Linked DNA regions of Homo sapiens: regions 1, 2 and 3 are each reported to be linked to region 4. Evidence: microRNA targets listed by miRTarBase, many of them from high-throughput screens and not tested one by one. Region 4 holds a microRNA gene; each other region holds the end of a gene's coding sequence.
What was found. The annotated mature microRNA hsa-miR-6807-5p reads GUGAGCCAGUGGAAUGGAGAGG and lies in region 4 at 2,488-2,509, opposite strand. An mRNA with a match to its seed (bases 2 to 7 or 8) in the 3' UTR can be bound and repressed. Matches are read on the target gene's strand: a 7mer-m8 pairs with bases 2 to 8, a 7mer-A1 pairs with bases 2 to 7 and ends in A, and an 8mer does both.

Region 1: miRTarBase lists ACO1 as a target of hsa-miR-6807-5p. Seed matches in the 3' UTR shown: 7mer-m8 at 2,014-2,020 and 7mer-m8 at 3,595-3,601.
Region 2: miRTarBase lists HM13 as a target of hsa-miR-6807-5p. The part of its 3' UTR that is shown has no 7-base or 8-base seed match.
Region 3: the mRNA of ARHGAP15 is a reported target of hsa-miR-6807-5p. The part of its 3' UTR that is shown has no 7-base or 8-base seed match.

What each region holds. Positions count from the first base shown.
Region 1 is chr9:32,449,780-32,453,844 of GRCh38, forward strand. It overlaps ACO1 (aconitase 1), which reads left to right. Exons shown (of 21, transcript NM_002197.3): 21 at 219-4,065. The coding sequence ends at 332. Among named protein-coding and RNA genes, the nearest start is that of ACO1, 67 kb to the left of the region's middle.
Region 2 is chr20:31,568,510-31,572,574 of GRCh38, forward strand. HM13 (histocompatibility minor 13) reads left to right here. Exons shown (of 13, transcript NM_178581.3): 13 at 611-1,034. The coding sequence ends at 710. The region is part of intron 2 of HM13-AS1 (HM13 antisense RNA 1); the gene reads right to left. Among named protein-coding and RNA genes, the nearest start is that of HM13-AS1, 2.7 kb to the right of the region's middle. RefSeq lists a silencer at 1,097-1,391.
Region 3 is chr2:143,767,796-143,771,860 of GRCh38, forward strand. ARHGAP15 (Rho GTPase activating protein 15) reads left to right here. Exons shown (of 14, transcript NM_018460.4): 14 at 194-557. The coding sequence ends at 377. The region is part of intron 2 of ARHGAP15-AS1 (ARHGAP15 antisense RNA 1); the gene reads right to left. Among named protein-coding and RNA genes, the nearest start is that of ARHGAP15-AS1, 6.3 kb to the right of the region's middle.
Region 4 is chr19:58,548,794-58,552,793 of GRCh38, reverse strand. It overlaps MIR6807 (microRNA 6807), which reads right to left and starts at 2,509; the gene lies at 2,418-2,509. It overlaps TRIM28 (tripartite motif containing 28), which reads right to left. Exons shown (of 17, transcript NM_005762.3): 11 at 3,884-3,932; 12 at 3,554-3,806; 13 at 3,144-3,463; 14 at 2,934-3,057; 15 at 2,759-2,845; 16 at 2,510-2,647; 17 at 2,079-2,417. The coding sequence ends at 2,241. CHMP2A (charged multivesicular body protein 2A) reads left to right here. Exons shown (of 6, transcript NM_014453.4): 3 at 356-535; 4 at 609-739; 5 at 827-888; 6 at 1,018-1,228. The coding sequence ends at 1,145.

The sequences.
Region 1 (4,065 bases), not on the chromosome of region 4:
AAACTGTAATGGGCAAAGCAGCCTCCCAGAGATCTTGCTGAAATGCATCTTCTGATTTAGTGGGTCTGGGCTGGGGCCAGCAGCCTTGCATGTCCTCATGTGCTGCTGGTGTTACTGAAGTGTGGACCACACCTGAGGGGCAGGCTGGGCAGAATTTCCTCCGAGCAGAGCTGTCTCGCCACCTCCCTCAATGATGCTTCTGTTTCTTTGTGCCACAGCTGGATACTGGCAAGACCTTCCAGGCTGTCATGAGGTTTGACACTGATGTGGAGCTCACTTATTTCCTCAACGGGGGCATCCTCAACTACATGATCCGCAAGATGGCCAAGTAGGAGACGTGCACTTGGTGCTGCGCCCAGGGAGGAAGCCGCACCACCAGCCAGCGCAGGCCCTGGTGGAGAGGCCTCCCTGGCTGCCTCTGGGAGGGGTGCTGCCTTGTAGATGGAGCAAGTGAGCACTGAGGGTCTGGTGCCAATCCTGTAGGCACAAAACCAGAAGTTTCTACATTCTCTATTTTTGTTAATCATCTTCTCTTTTTCCAGAATTTGGAAGCTAGAATGGTGGGAATGTCAGTAGTGCCAGAAAGAGAGAACCAAGCTTGTCTTTAAAGTTACTGATCACAGGACGTTGCTTTTTCACTGTTTCCTATTAATCTTCAGCTGAACACAAGCAAACCTTCTCAGGAGGTGTCTCCTACCCTCTTATTGTTCCTCTTACGCTCTGCTCAATGAAACCTTCCTCTTGAGGGTCATTTTCCTTTCTGTATTAATTATACCAGTGTTAAGTGACATAGATAAGAACTTTGCACACTTCAAATCAGAGCAGTGATTCTCTCTTCTCTCCCCTTTTCCTTCAGAGTGAATCATCCAGACTCCTCATGGATAGGTCGGGTGTTAAAGTTGTTTTGATTATGTACCTTTTGATAGATCCACATAAAAAGAAATGTGAAGTTTTCTTTTACTATCTTTTCATTTATCAAGCAGAGACCTTTGTTGGGAGGCGGTTTGGGAGAACACATTTCTAATTTGAATGAAATGAAATCTATTTTCAGTGAAAACTTGTTGACTTTGAGTTTTGCTGTGTTTGTGGCTAGAGTTTTGGGATATTTAGTACAGAGTGAATCTCACACCATATCATTGGGAAGCCTGAATAACCTTCATATTCTCCCATTTTTACAACTCTATCAGAACTGTACGGGTATAACGGAAATGTTTAGGAACCATTATGCTCGCTCTTCCCTGTTTGGGAGCAGACAAGAAGGAAGAGTAGCCTGGTGGCAGTGGCAACGATATAAGTACATAAGGAAAAGCAGATAAACTTCAGGACACTAAAAACCAATTATCTGCTCATTTTTACCCCTGTAGTCATTTCTGGGCATGCCTTAGTTTGCTTGGGTTGCTATAATGTAATGCCATAGACTGGCTGAAAGAACAGAAATGTATTTTCTCACAGTTATGGAGGCTGGAATTCTGAGATCAAAGTTGAAGCCACTTCATTTTCTGGTGAGGACACTCTTCCTGGTTTACAGATGGCCACCTTCTTGCTTGTTCTCACATGGCATTTCTTTGGTATGTGCCTGGTGGGGGAGAGAGAAAATAGGCTCTCATGTCTCTTCTTACAGCAACACTAATTGTATTGGATCAGGGTCCCACTCTTATGGAGACCCAGGAAAGCTGGTGGTATAACAACTTGGTTCAAGTCCAAATGCCTAAGAACCTGGGGAGGGGCATGGGGAATGCTGGTATAAGTCCCAGAGTCTGAATGCCCAGGAACAAGCAGGAGCTGTGATGTCCAAGGACAGGAGGGCAGGATCTTTGTAATGAATTTTTAATGTCAACCTTAGCACTCAGGGGATATGGCCTGGTCATCAGAACATCTGGAATCTAATCCTCTTTCTACTTCTCACCAGATGAGGGATCAAGACAGGTTATTTAGCATCCCTGCACTTGCGGTCCTGGGGATCTTATTTATATTCATTTAAAAAATAAATTACAAACAAACAGCCAGGCGCAGTGGCTCATGCCTATAATTCCATCACTTTGGGAGGCCGAGGTGGGTAGATCACCTGAGGTCAGGAGTTCTAGACCAGCCTGGCCAACATGGTGAAACCCCGTCTCTACTAAAAATACAAAAAATTAGCCAGGTGTGGTATTGTGTGCCTGTAATCCCAGCTACACAGGAGGCTGAGGCAGGAGAATTGCTTAAACCCGGGATGCAGAGGCTGCAGTGAGCCGAGATCGTGCCATTGCACGCCCGCCTGGGCTACAAGAGCAAAGCTCCGTCTCAAAAAAAAAAAAAAATTACAAACAAACAGAACTCCATTGTACAAAAAAACCTGTGATCCTCAAGTTAAGATCAGTCCTAGAATAAAAACACTAAGAATGGCTGAGAAAACAGACCTCCACCCTCTCAGCTCTCCATTACTGAGCAGCTGGGGAGCTGTCTCGCTCCCCGCATTCAGTGGCTCCTGTGGTCTGTATTTTTGTATCCTCCCCAAAATTCAGGTGGTGAAACCTTAACCCCCCAGGTAATGGTAATAGAAGCTGGGGCCTTTGGAAGGTGATTAGATCATGAGGGTAGTGCCTTTTAAAAGAGACTCAAGATAAGATAGAGACCCCCTCATTTCTTCTGCCATGGGAGAACACAGCAAGAAGTCACCATCCGTGAACCAGAAAGTGGGTTCTCACCAGATACTGAATCTGCCAGTGCCTTGAACCTAGACTTTCCAGCCAGAACTGTGAGAAATTTCTATTGTTTATAAGCCACCCAGTTGATATTTAGTTACAGCAGCCCAACCAAGACTGTGGTTATGAGGAAACAAACACATTATTGTGGCTAGACTAATGGAATTGGGTCCCTTACCTCCAAGTACACCCTCTGTCCTTTTCGGTAAAAATATCTTCGCCAGGCACGGTGTCTCATGCCTATGATCCCAACACTTTGGGAGGCCGAGGCTGGAGGGTTGCTTGAGCCCAGAAGTTTGAGACCAGCCTGGGCAACACTCTACAAAAAAAAAAATAAATAAATAAATAAATAAAATAAATCAGCCAGGTGTGCACCTGTGGTCCCAGCTGTTCAGGAGGCTGAGGTGGGAGGATCACTTGAGCCTGGGAGGTCGTGGCTATGATTGCTCCACTGCACTCCAGCCTGGGCAATAGAGTGAGACCCTATCAATCAATCACCACCCCCCCCCCCCCCAAAAAAAAAAGTATCTTGGCCAGTGTCTCAACCTTGCCCACTAACAAGCCTAAATAAACCAACTTCTTTTACCTGGTTCTTTAAGGGCTGCTCGTCTTACTATCCAAATTAAAAATCTGCTGTTCTCCCTCCCATATTCTTTGCGAATGAAGATTCCCCTGTTTGTTTGGATAGTTTTCCAAATTCATTACTGCATTCCTGGCATCCGCAGCAAGCTAAGAGTTAGTTAATATTTTTAATATAGCAAATAAGGATGAGGGATGCCCTTCATGTGTATTTACACACCAGATTTTTATGGTACATAGGGAGTAATCTAGGGAAAAGATATATTAGGCATGAATCTTAGCTGTGGTAGAAGCACAGCTCAAATTAGCTTAAGGAAAAAAAAAAAAAAGCTGGCTCATAGAACTTGAGGACAGTGGTGGCCATGACTATGGGCTTGATTGGATCTAGTGACTCAAGCTCCCTTCCATTTGCCCCTCCAACCACCCCCCCATCCCTCCACCAATCATACCTTCTGTTGGCCTCTGCAGTAGAGTGGCCTCTTCTGGGCCCTTCCACATGCCAGGGGATATGGCCACCAGCAGTTCTGGGGAAACCATTAGTAATTTGTGATCGTAGAGATTTGTCTCCCAGTATTCCCTAGGGCAAAAATATTGGGAGTTCCTAGTCACCTAAATGAAGAACCTTATTTTTAGCAGTTTCCCTTTCAGGGCTCTAACAGGACTGTGGAGTAATGTACGGGGTTATGTAGGAGCAATGCAGAGCCACTTTTGAAAAACAGTAGCCAAGGTTCTACTGGCTGCCTTCTTAGGACATTATTAAATATCATAAACACAAGTGGAATTTAACACCCAGCCAGTTTGT
Region 2 (4,065 bases), not on the chromosome of region 4:
ATGTATAACCTTAGGCAAGTTACTTTCTTCATCTGTAAGTGGGCACATTCCTGCCTCACGGGGTTTATCTGGTGAGGAAAGATTTGTATTATCTTTGGCATGAACTCAGTTGCTTGAAAAATGAAGCCCATAGAAGAAGCTAAGCCAGGGTGTCTGTCTTCAGAGCAGCACCTTGCCGCTTGCCAGTACAGCAGTGCCCTCACCTCTGGGGCTGAGCTGTTTGATTCATGCTGTGTGCCCTGGGAGGCAGCCTATCTCCATCTCTTGTAGCCTTGTCATGGCCACCCCTTTTTCCACGCTACAGCAGAAGGTTCAGGAAGCTTGAAATCAGCCCACACAAGCCCAGGCCCAACCTCTCTTCCATTGGCTGCTGCCCTTGCTGCCTCCTGGTACCCCCAGGCTCAGAGAAAGCAGAGCAGCCTGCCTGAGGAGGGCATGTGGTAGGGCTGGGGCCAGGCGCTGTTAGGTGCTGGGCAGTGGACACAGGGCTGACGCTCTGCATGTGACCAGGCGCTTTCCTAGGATGGGGGTGGGGGAAGGGGACAACCAAGGTTCTGCTCACCCTCTCCTCTAAATGAATTTTTATTGTTGTTTTTTTTTTTTTGGTCAGTTATGAGGAGTCAAATCCTAAGGATCCAGCGGCAGTGACAGAATCCAAAGAGGGAACAGAGGCATCAGCATCGAAGGGGCTGGAGAAGAAAGAGAAATGATGCAGCTGGTGCCCGAGCCTCTCAGGGCCAGACCAGACAGATGGGGGCTGGGCCCACACAGGCGTGCACCGGTAGAGGGCACAGGAGGCCAAGGGCAGCTCCAGGACAGGGCAGGGGGCAGCAGGATACCTCCAGCCAGGCCTCTGTGGCCTCTGTTTCCTTCTCCCTTTCTTGGCCCTCCTCTGCTCCTCCCCACACCCTGCAGGCAAAAGAAACCCCCAGCTTCCCCCCTCCCCGGGAGCCAGGTGGGAAAAGTGGGTGTGATTTTTAGATTTTGTATTGTGGACTGATTTTGCCTCACATTAAAAACTCATCCCATGGCCAGGGCGGGCCACTGTGCTCCTGGAAGATTCTCTGTTTAAGCACCCAGTGTCTTGCCCTGGGTTTTCTAGGTCTCACCTGCCCACCCAAAATCTTTTCTGCAAGCCCCTTAAGGGTGCCCACCCCAGTGCCTGGCCAGCCCTGCACCCGTAAAACACCTTTTAGCCAGTAGAGGGGGCCCACGAGCCCTCTCTCACCAGCTAGCACTTTTCTCACCACCTTCCTCGAAATACTTGGGGGCAGCAAGGGTGTTGGCAGATGAGAGTCTCCCACTCACCATGGTGAGAGTGGTGGGGAGTACCCAGGGCTGACCTGACTCACAAGGGAAGCAGTAACTGTAGAACCTGCCAGCCTCCCTGGTCCCTGTGCCCATATGGCTTCGGCTGATGAGGGCTCAGACTCTAGGTTGCCCTGAAGATCAAGGCTTTGTCTCCCATTCTGCCCATTCCTGGGTTTCTTCCCAAAATGACTACTGTGGGGCCAGTCATGGCACAAGGGCCAGGACCTCTAGAGGCTGGGGTGGGGAAGGACTGAGCTAGTGATTCTTAGAGGCCTTCTGGGGCCTAAGAGCTGAAATCTCAGCGCCCGGGTTTCCCTAAAGTTTGCTGAAGACAGCAGCCCCGGCCAGCAGGAGACCGACCGGGCACCACCCCAAACCAGGCAAACGGTGGCCACAACCCTCATCCACCCACCTGGTATGAGGTCACTGAGTGGGGAAACAGACAGGAGCGGGTGGCCACCATACTGACAGACCCGGGGCTCTCCCTTGCCCAAGCTTCAGGTTCAAAGGCTGAAAATAACAGTGGCTTCCAGTTTGGAAGTGGCCAAAGGACAATCATGACCAGAGACTCAGGAGTATGACTGTAATACCCTCACTAGGTATTGACATGCACTAAGCACCTTGATATAGGATTTCACTTCCTTCTGAGTCTTGGGCTGTATGTGCTATTATTCGCTCCGCTGTGCAGATGAGGGAATTGAGGCAGCTTGCCCATGGACATCGATTTGACCTTAGCCAAGCCAAACAATTCCAGGTTCCTAAGGACCGCAGCTCCTCCCCAGACCCCTGGGACCAAGTCACTGGCTGGTGTGCTGGGCATCCCTGAGCCCCAGCCACCCAATTTTACTGGCTCCAGGGTTCTATAGGAAGGAAAAGGGGTAGAAAATTTCAAAAGGCTTCTTCCTTTCAGGGAGGGGGGTTCCCTTTCAGGGGCTTCTGGAATCTCTACCCACTCCAGCCAACTCTGAGGCCATGTGGTCCTGGAACAAGGCCCCTCTGAGGCAGATGGGGCAGGCGGCCCAGGCACATAGCATGGTTGGCTCTGCGGCCCAGGGCGCACAAAGGCCTTATTGAGTCACCACCAGCCCCCGGCAGAGGCTGAGGTGGCAGTGGCGCCGAGCGCCTGCCACCTAATGACTGTCCTGGTCCAGCCAGATGTTCCACAGACCTCCGGAGCAGCGGACTAGGGCCCGCCCGGCCAGCCGGCACCGCAGAGGCCACTGTAATTCCAATTAACCAGCTTCAGCTGAGCAAACAGCGGGCAGTGGTGGCCCAGCCCAGGCGGTAGGCCTGGCCCGCAGAGCCTGCGAGTCTAGACTCCAGATGTGAACCGCCACCATCAGAGTCCCATGGAAAAATGGCACCAGGCCGGGCAAGGATTGGGCCTGCATGCTGGGGAGGGGGTGTGGGTGGTTGGGCAGGGCCCCGAGTGGGCTAGATGCCAGCCTCACCTGGTTTGGGGTGGATTATTAGGAAACTGCTCTAGAACCCAAGTTCTACCCTGCTTTATTAGATTCTGTTTCTGTGCCTCAGTCTCCCATGACTGCGACAAGAGAGAGGGTTCCAAGGGGAAAACCAGCCCTGCTGAGACCCCAGTGTGCACTGACTGTATTTCACGTGACTAGCATTATGCTAGTGCAACTGACCCTTGAACAACACAGGGATTAGGGGCACCAACCCATCATGGTCGAAAATCTGTATAACTTTTCAGTCCCGCAAAACAACTAATAGTCTGCTGTTGACCAGAAGCCTTACCTGATAACATAAACAGTCAAAACATCTTGTATGTTATACGTACTACACTGTCTACCATAGAGTAAGCTAGAGAAAATGTAATTAAGAAAATCCTAAGAGCCAGGCATGGTGGCTCATGCCTGTAATCCCAGCATTTTGGGAGGCCAAGATGGGCAGATCAGGAGGTCAGGAGATCGAGACCATCCTGGCTAACATGGTGAAACCCCCGTTTCTACTAAAAATACAAAAAATTAGCCGGGCATGATGGCAGGCGCCTGTAGTCTCAGCTACTCGGGAGGCTGAGGCAGGAGAATGGCCTGAACCCGGGAGGCAGAGCTTGCAGTAAGCCGAGAGAGGCAGGCGGATCACAAAGTCAGGAGTTCGAGACCAGCCTGGCCAATATGGTGAAACCCCGACTCTACTAAAAATACAAAAATTAGCCTGGCATGGTGGCAGGCGACTGTAGTCCCAGCTACTCAGGAGGCTGAGGTGGGAGAATCACTTGAACCCAAGAGGCGGAGGTTGCAGTGAGCCAAGATTGCACCACCGCACTCCAGCCTGGGGGACAGAGTGAGACTCCGTCTCAAAAAAAAAAAAATTATTCAGTGAAAGTGGATCATCATAAATAAAGATCTTCATCCTGGTCTCTGTGTTGAGGAAGAGGAGGGGGTTGGTCTTGGTGTCTCAGGGGTGGCAGAGGTAGAAAAAAAGTCCACGTTTAAGTGCACCTGCACAATTGAAACCCGTGTTCAAGTTTCAAATGTATCTTAAGATTTACTTAATCGTTGTAACAACACTTTGAGGTACCTACATCATTCTTACGATGGGGAAACTGAGGCAGAGACCGTAAGGGCGGGCCCAGGGGGCATGTGAACCCAGAGTGTCTGGCTTCCAAGACTCGTATTCACCGTGGTGCCGTTTGACATGATCAGGATAATGGATCCCTGGTTCCTTTTGGGGGCAGCATTGGAGAAGGGGGTTTGGCACCGTCAGTCTGACAGCAGGGCTGGCTCCTGCAGT
Region 3 (4,065 bases), not on the chromosome of region 4:
ACAAGGCAATGTATCCTTTCCCCAAAACTCATAGGTTCTACTTCCATACAGTAAAGTATGTAGGGTAGAAGATTAAATAATGTTATAATGCAGTTACTTTTCCTGAATGAGAAACCTTTTTTAATCACTCCAAAGTAGCCATAACTTCACTTCAAACTCCAGTGAAATTATTTTTTTTTCTCTCTCTCCACAGGATAGTGGCCAAAGCCTCCAAGAACCTCATGTCCACGCAAAGCTTGGGGATTGTATTTGGACCTACCCTTCTGCGAGCTGAAAATGAAACAGGAAACATGGCGATCCACATGGTCTACCAGAACCAGATAGCTGAGCTCATGCTGAGTGAGTACAGTAAGATCTTCGGCTCAGAGGAAGACTGACAGACAAGACAAGCTACTGAATACGTTCACATCTGTCTTGATGCCTAATATTTTTACATTTCTGTAAACATATTTCTGAAATATTTTTTGCCTTTCAAGCGACAGATGCCTCATTTTGTGAAAACTTAATGATGATTTTGTGTTTAAGTTCCAAACATTTGAATAAAATAATTGACAATATTTGCCTCTATGTGTTCTACATTAACCCCTTTGGTGCTATGCCTTCTAGCACTTCTAGGAGCACATCATGCATGCCTCATGCTATTAAATAATATGCAAAGACTAGCACATATTCAAAAAATGGCCTTAATGCTGCTCCAGGGAATTGGGTGTGTGGTTGTGTATGTGGAGATGTGAGTGAGTGTGGTTGGGAGTAGGGGTGCATGTGCACACATGTGCTTTCCCAAGATCCAGGCTGCCTTAAACATGACTCCATACTGTTACTTGGACACGGATAGAACACAAAGAGGTAGGAAGGCAGAAGCTATTAATTTGTAAATTGAACGAAGGAGATCAGGTTCACAACCAAAACATATATATTTCATCTTTCCAGAACATTTTTGTATATATAAATATAGTCCAGCTATTTTCAATGCTATACAGTGAAATTTATAAATATAACATGTTGAATGGCAATTTTTCTCAAGAAAAATGACAGTTCAAAGCATTTGCCATTGAATTTTTTATAAATACAAATGTAGTCCCATAAACACACTATCTTATAAATTAGAAGCAAAATTAGTGCCCTGCAATTTTGATCTTTATATTACACAGGAATTGCATGACTGCTCATTTTTAATGCTAACATCCATTTTGAATCTTCATCAAACTGTATATCTTCCTTTTCCCTGGCTATGTCATTTTATGTAGAATTTTTATTATACTTCTGAGGATGCTTTATTGGTGAATTACATTAAATCCATCTAGAAAGAACTTTTTTAAAGCCTTTTTTTTCATATGCCCTAAGGATTACTTGACTAGACTTAGATTGCTTTATCCATTTGATAGTTTCAGTTGTCATGGATAAACAAAAGGGTAACTGTCTAGAATATATCAAACATTGTTTTATTTTGAAAAGTATGTTCTAGTTGAACACATCTCATACTGGTTTTATGAAAGTATTCTGCTGATAAAAATGTAGACTTACGTTTGACAGCTTTTTAATCAAATTCAAACAGAATAAATAAAACTAATCCAGTGTGATAAAGAGTAAGTATAGTTATCGATTTGTTCATAAAATGAAAAATAAAACATGTAAATAAAACGGGTGAAGCACAGATCCAGAGCAAACACTTAGGGCAATAATGAGCTCCACGGCATAGGCTGTCTGTTTAGATGGGGTATTCAGGAGACGGGGAGAGTCTGCTCAAGAGATAGCCAGATGTGCAGGCAGCTCCAACATCCATGGAGCTGCCTGAGGAAGCAGAGGACTCCCTTGTCCCTTTTGAATGTCTTCATTTTAGCAATGGCGCCAGTAAGTGGGCTTGTAGCCAAGAACAGAGAAGCCACCACAATAAGTGCTGAAGTGCAGTTTCATCCAGTGGGATGTATACACATACAAAAAGCTGAAAAAAAGTCGCATGAAGCAGAACTCCATGATCTGAAGTCACCAGTAACAGTGGGCTGGCAGACTTGCTAGCTTTAAGTGATTCTTATAAGTAAAATTGTAATTATGCCTTTCAGAAAAACATGGAGACATGAAACAAGAGTTTCTGGCATTCTATTTCAAGTCGTTCTCATTTCCATGCCATTCCGTATTCTCAATTAGGTCTTTCCCAAGACTTTGATTACTTCCCTTTTTGAAGCGTTGGGGGAGAGTAGATTTAGTGGTTCTAGCATTAAAATCTTATCCCTTCACACGTATCCATCTTTAAAGTTATTCTGGAAGCATCAGCCAGAGAGAACCAGCACTGAAAGCCAAAGAGAAGTGGCACTACCTGCTTTGGGCAGGGACTCACAGCCCCTTGTCTCTGTTGCTTTCCAGATTTATAATCTTCAAAAGCACCAGCTTCTTGATTTCCAATCTGATGGGATTTAGCCTGATTCAAACCCCAGCTGTGTCCTGTCCCTGCCTGCTAAGGGCATTTAATCAGAGAATGTGTTTCCTCTCTGGGAAAAGGCCATTCCAACGTGCTGAGCCAAAGTGCCCATCACAGGATCTGACCTAACACACTAAAGGCATAAAAAGGGTTACACCAAAAAGTTATTATTAGATTCCGTAACATCTCAAATACAGTGATGACGGCCATATCAAGTCTTCCATGTTTAGAAGCTGAGATTATAAGTATACTAGGTTGACTAAAAGGTTAGATTTCATATAACTGGTCAATATTCTCCAGCAAGAAGTCATGAAACACCAGTGAGCATTTCCTTATCTCCTAGTTTGAACCAGGCAAAATTCTAGGCACTGGTGACACAAATATTAAATAAGACAAATATTTCTACCCTCTGTAGTTTCAGCCCAGTGAGGGAGACTATCCCTAACAATTAATTACAGTTCAATACAAGATCAGGTGCCTTAGCCATCTTGGTAAGCGTGTAGACCCAGGATTCGGCACCTATACTTAAAGATGCTCAAAATGTATTGTTGAATGAATGGGCAAACAGAACAGAAGCTATTCCAGACATATTAACAATGCTCAGTGGCTGACAAATACCAAAAGACTCAGTTACAGGCAGTAACTGTCCTCTGACTCTGTTACAGAGTTAGATGTGGCTTCATTGGGAAGGTAACCTTTTCTATCTAATCTTGACCAATGAACAAGATTTACCAAAGAAAAATGCAGAAAACACACCAGGAAACAGGAATGGCACGAACAGAGTCATGAAAGACCTGACATTCTCCAAAGAAAAGTGAGAAGTTCAGTGAATAAAGGGTGAAGTGCATGCCTAGCAATTTTGGAATATAAAGCTAGAGAAAGATGTTGGGATCAGATATCAGCCATGATAACATATTCAGATTTTATCCTGTAGGCAAAAGGGATCCCATAGAGGCTGTAAAGCCAGAAAGCTATAGAGAAACTTTGTTTCTTAGAGAATCTCTAAATTCACCAATGGGCAGGAAAAAAATTAATTTGAGGAGACCAGCATTTTCTCATGTATGTGTTTGTGTGTGAAATAAAATTATAATCTTATATTCTTAGGGTCAGTTCTAGTTATGATGATGAAACATTTTAAGAAATTGTAACTTAGTCTGTAGAATGGAAACACAAGTCCCTAGAAAATCAAGCTAGTTATTATGTCCCATTTCAGCACGCCTTTACCTACCCAGGATATCAGAGGTTTCCCCTCTTTCTTATTGACACAGAAAGCTGCTTGGAGATGGTATATATTTCATCTTATATGTTGACAGTCTGACTTTCTTAGCATGTGCCATATGACAGGATCACCATGCCACAACTAGTAATTGAAAGCCATATGATGGTTCTCCCTATCCAATTAGAAAACAAACGATCCAATTAAGAAAAATTTTAAAAGCTGTTAAAAGGAAGCAATCACTTGCCAATAGTGCTGTCCTTACAGTTTAACACAGCTAGAAATTGACCTGTACTTCTCTTTTCCACATTTATTTTTGTGAATTATAAGTTAATCACCCTGTCAATTCCTAATTAAAAGGCCCTGCAAAGATTTTCATCCAAAAAGGACTGTTGCTAAGGGTTCTGGGTCAAATTGCTCTGTTGTCAAAAAT
Region 4 (4,000 bases):
TAGGCTGGGAATAAAAATTGAGGAATGGCTGTTGTAAGTCAAAAGAATGACTGAAAACATGGAGGGAAAAGGAACCCTCAGGAGTGAGCCTGGGGCCTTTCTTTTACCATTTACAGATCAAGAGAAGTGAGGAGGACCTTACAAAGGAGCCCAGGGAGTTGGTGGCCCAAGAGGCAGAGGAGGGTTAGGTCAGAAGGAGGGAGGGACCAGTGACCATTGGGTTAGCCAGAGTCTCTGGAAACTTCAAGTGGAATTGCAAATTGGGCTGGTGGGGAGGGACAACCAACTAATGGGGTGTCAAGAAGTGTAGGATAATCTCATTCCTGTGTCCTTGATACCCTTGTCTACTCTGCAGGATGCTGTTCGCATCATGGCAAAAGACTTGGTGCGCACCCGGCGCTATGTGCGCAAGTTTGTATTGATGCGGGCCAACATCCAGGCTGTGTCCCTCAAGATCCAGACACTCAAGTCCAACAACTCGATGGCACAAGCCATGAAGGGTGTCACCAAGGCCATGGGCACCATGAACAGACAGGTGCGCTTTTCCCAATCCCCCTTCCCACTCCCACGACCCATGGGGATCACACTCACACTCCTGTCACTTCCAGCTGAAGTTGCCCCAGATCCAGAAGATCATGATGGAGTTTGAGCGGCAGGCAGAGATCATGGATATGAAGGAGGAGATGATGAATGATGCCATTGATGATGCCATGGGTGATGAGGAAGATGAAGAGGAGAGGTATGGGGAAACTGGATGGGAGGGTGGAGATGTTTGCCTGGCCCTCACGGAGTGCATAGCCCTCACTGAGTTCTCTCTCTTCCCTAGTGATGCTGTGGTGTCCCAGGTTCTGGATGAGCTGGGACTTAGCCTAACAGATGAGCTGTCGAGTGAGTGCTCCAAATCCTGGACCCCATTTCCCACCCAAGGCCCAGCCACAGCTCCAAGCCCTCCCTTTCCCTGCATTACTCCCCTCCGCTGCCTGACCCCACCTGCTCAAACCCCCACTTTCTCTGCAGACCTCCCCTCAACTGGGGGCTCGCTTAGTGTGGCTGCTGGTGGGAAAAAAGCAGAGGCCGCAGCCTCAGCCCTAGCTGATGCTGATGCAGACCTGGAGGAACGGCTTAAGAACCTGCGGAGGGACTGAGTGCCCCTGCCACTCCGAGATAACCAGTGGATGCCCAGGATCTTTTACCACAACCCCTCTGTAATAAAAGAGATTTGACACTAGTCTCCAGGCCCATGTGACTTTTGGCCTGATGTGGGACCAGACTGGGGTCCCTGGGAGGATGGGCATCACTAAGGCAAGAGGCACTTGGTACTAAGCTAAGGGTGGGGGTTTGGGGCAGGGGTGAACAAGCAAAGTCCACCTGGGATTTTCAGGAGCTGGGAGCTTCAGGTGAGCTGTGGGCCCTTCTCCATCACCTCTCCCAAGATACTGGACTGCCCAAACACCCTGGTAGGATCTTGAGAGTCCAGGCCTCATCTGCCAGGCTGTAGTGTCCAACACTGTTTGGTCCAGTGATGGTTTAATGACAACACTCAAGGACAGTCCAGACCAACCAATAGAGGCAAGGGGGTGGCCTTGGGATTCACACAGGCTCGACTGTAGAGTAACTAAATCATAACACAGAGATGAATGATAATGTTAAGTGGACTCAGCAAAGGGAGACAGGGAAAAAAACCACATCTGGAAGGTCTCAGTTCACTGTGGGACCTTCTGAAGATGAGAAACAGCTACAGCACCAAAATTTAGGAAGCATTCAGTAGAGTGGCTGTGCTACACCTGGGGCTAACCCTGCCTACACAGGGATGTAGGTCACACCTACCCAGTATCCCACAGGGTACCCAACAAGCCTCTAGTGTGTACATCCTTTGCCCTGGGTGACCCTCCCCATACCCAGAAAGGGCAAGGAGGCAGTCTTCCCCACTCCCTAGGCATCCATACACATGGGCTTCGATAGGTGGGGGACAAGACCCCCCTCCCTTGTGCCACCAGTGCTTGATAAGGCTGACTAGTAGATACAGTCAATAAACCAGGCCCCAGGACCACAGTCCCCCAACCAGCCAACGCCTGAGGAACTGGTGAAGTTTTTATTAAATCCACAGAAGTAAAAACCATATCGTGAGGAACTGGGGGATGGGGCCACCAGGGAGTGGGAGTCAGGCCACCAGGGGAGTGGGGATGGGGTGACAGGACAGAGAACAGAGCCAGGCTGGGCTGGCCATGGGGGCTCCAGCCTCAGGGGCCATCACCAGGGCCACCAGACAGCTCCTGGGAACTCAGGCCAGCACCAGGCAGGCTCATCGGCGGGGGCTCCACCAGCACAGCAGAGAACTTGGTGTCACCGAAGGCCTCGTTCATGCGCGTCTCGAAGAAGCGCTGCAGGCCGATGATGGACTGCACGTCTGCCTTGTCCTGGGCCAAGCAGGAATGCAGTGGATGAATGGGTCCTAGTTCTTTCCTTCACATCTCCCCCTGCCCACAGCCTCTCCATTCCACTGGCTCACCTCAGTTAACTTGTTGAATTGCTTGAACATGCGGCCCACATCCTGGGCAAACTCCTGTGGGGAGCTGTAGGGAGGTGACAACTTCTCCTGGAGGCGGGCACGGATCAGGGTCAGATCCAGGGTGCCACCGGGCTGGTCCTGCAGGCAGAGATCACACATACACACACAAAGACACACATATACATGCACAGGTTGAGGGCGAGACCCAGCAGCCACCACCCCCTTCCCCTTTCCCATCCTAGGACTCACCAGGGAGAAGGTGGAGTCGGTAGCCAGCTGATGCAGGGGGCGGCAGGGTTCGTGACAGAATAGGGCCAGCAGTACACGCTCACATTTCTACAAACATTGTAAGGGATGTCACAGCTCTGGGCAGCACCTATAAAGCCTCTCTGGGCAACCCCACCTAAGTAACCCCAGCCCTCACCCGCTGGTTGGCTGGTGAGAGCTTGGCCACCACGCCAGTGCTGTCTGCACCATCCAGGCTGAGGCTGCCATCCTCCTCCTTCAGGTCAGGGAGCACATGGCAGAGTGAGCAGCTCCACTCCTCCCTAGGGTGAAGAAAATAAGGGTCTGCACATGATCCTGTCCAGACAGCCCAACACCCAGACTTGACCCCCACCAGCCTCACACTCACCCTGGTACATCCTGCAGGGCCGGCAGGTGACAGTCCAGGTGGAAACAAAACTCACACTGGTTGCACATAACCAGATCGCCTGGCTTCTGGCAGACACGGCAAATGGTGGCACTGTCATCCAGGGTTCCCGGGCCACCACCTGGGGCTGAGGTACCCTCAGGAGCCACCACCTCCAGCCCTGAGCTGGTGCTGCCACTAGGTGAGGCCAGGCGGGGACCCTCAGCACCAGGACCCTCCGCAAGAGCCATAAGCACAGGTTTGGTCTCAGGGCCCTCAGTGGCAGTAGGAGGGGCTCCAATGGCAGCCTCCGTCTCCTCCTCCTGCAAGGTGGTGATGAGGGGTGTTCAACAGGGTCCAGACCTGGACTACAGGCTTCATCCTACAGCTATAGTTCCTTGGGACAGGCTTACCTTGACAATGGCCATGCCAGCCAGGGGTGGGGCACCAGGGGTTCCTGCAGGCGCAGTCCCTGGCTGGCCGGTAGCTGCAGCGGCAGCGCCACGTTCAATAACAATAAGGTTGTAGTCCTCAGTGGTACTGCCTGGGAAGACCTTGAAGACGGGTGGCTGGCTGTCAGCTGTGAGGTCCAGGTCCAGGCGTTCAAGGCTCACTCGTGGCACCTTGCGCATAAGGCCGCTCACCTCGCCCTCACCTGAGCGGGACCTGTAGATGCAGCAACCTGGCATGAGTACACCCCCACCCTCCATCCACCTCACCCCCAGGGGAGGTGCCATACTTACCGTTTCACACCTGACACATGGGGCTCTGCACTTGAGTAGGGATCATCTCCTTAGAAAATGGAGAAAGAAGACTGGCAGGTTGGGGTAGAAACAGCACTGGGGCCCTTCCCCACCCAC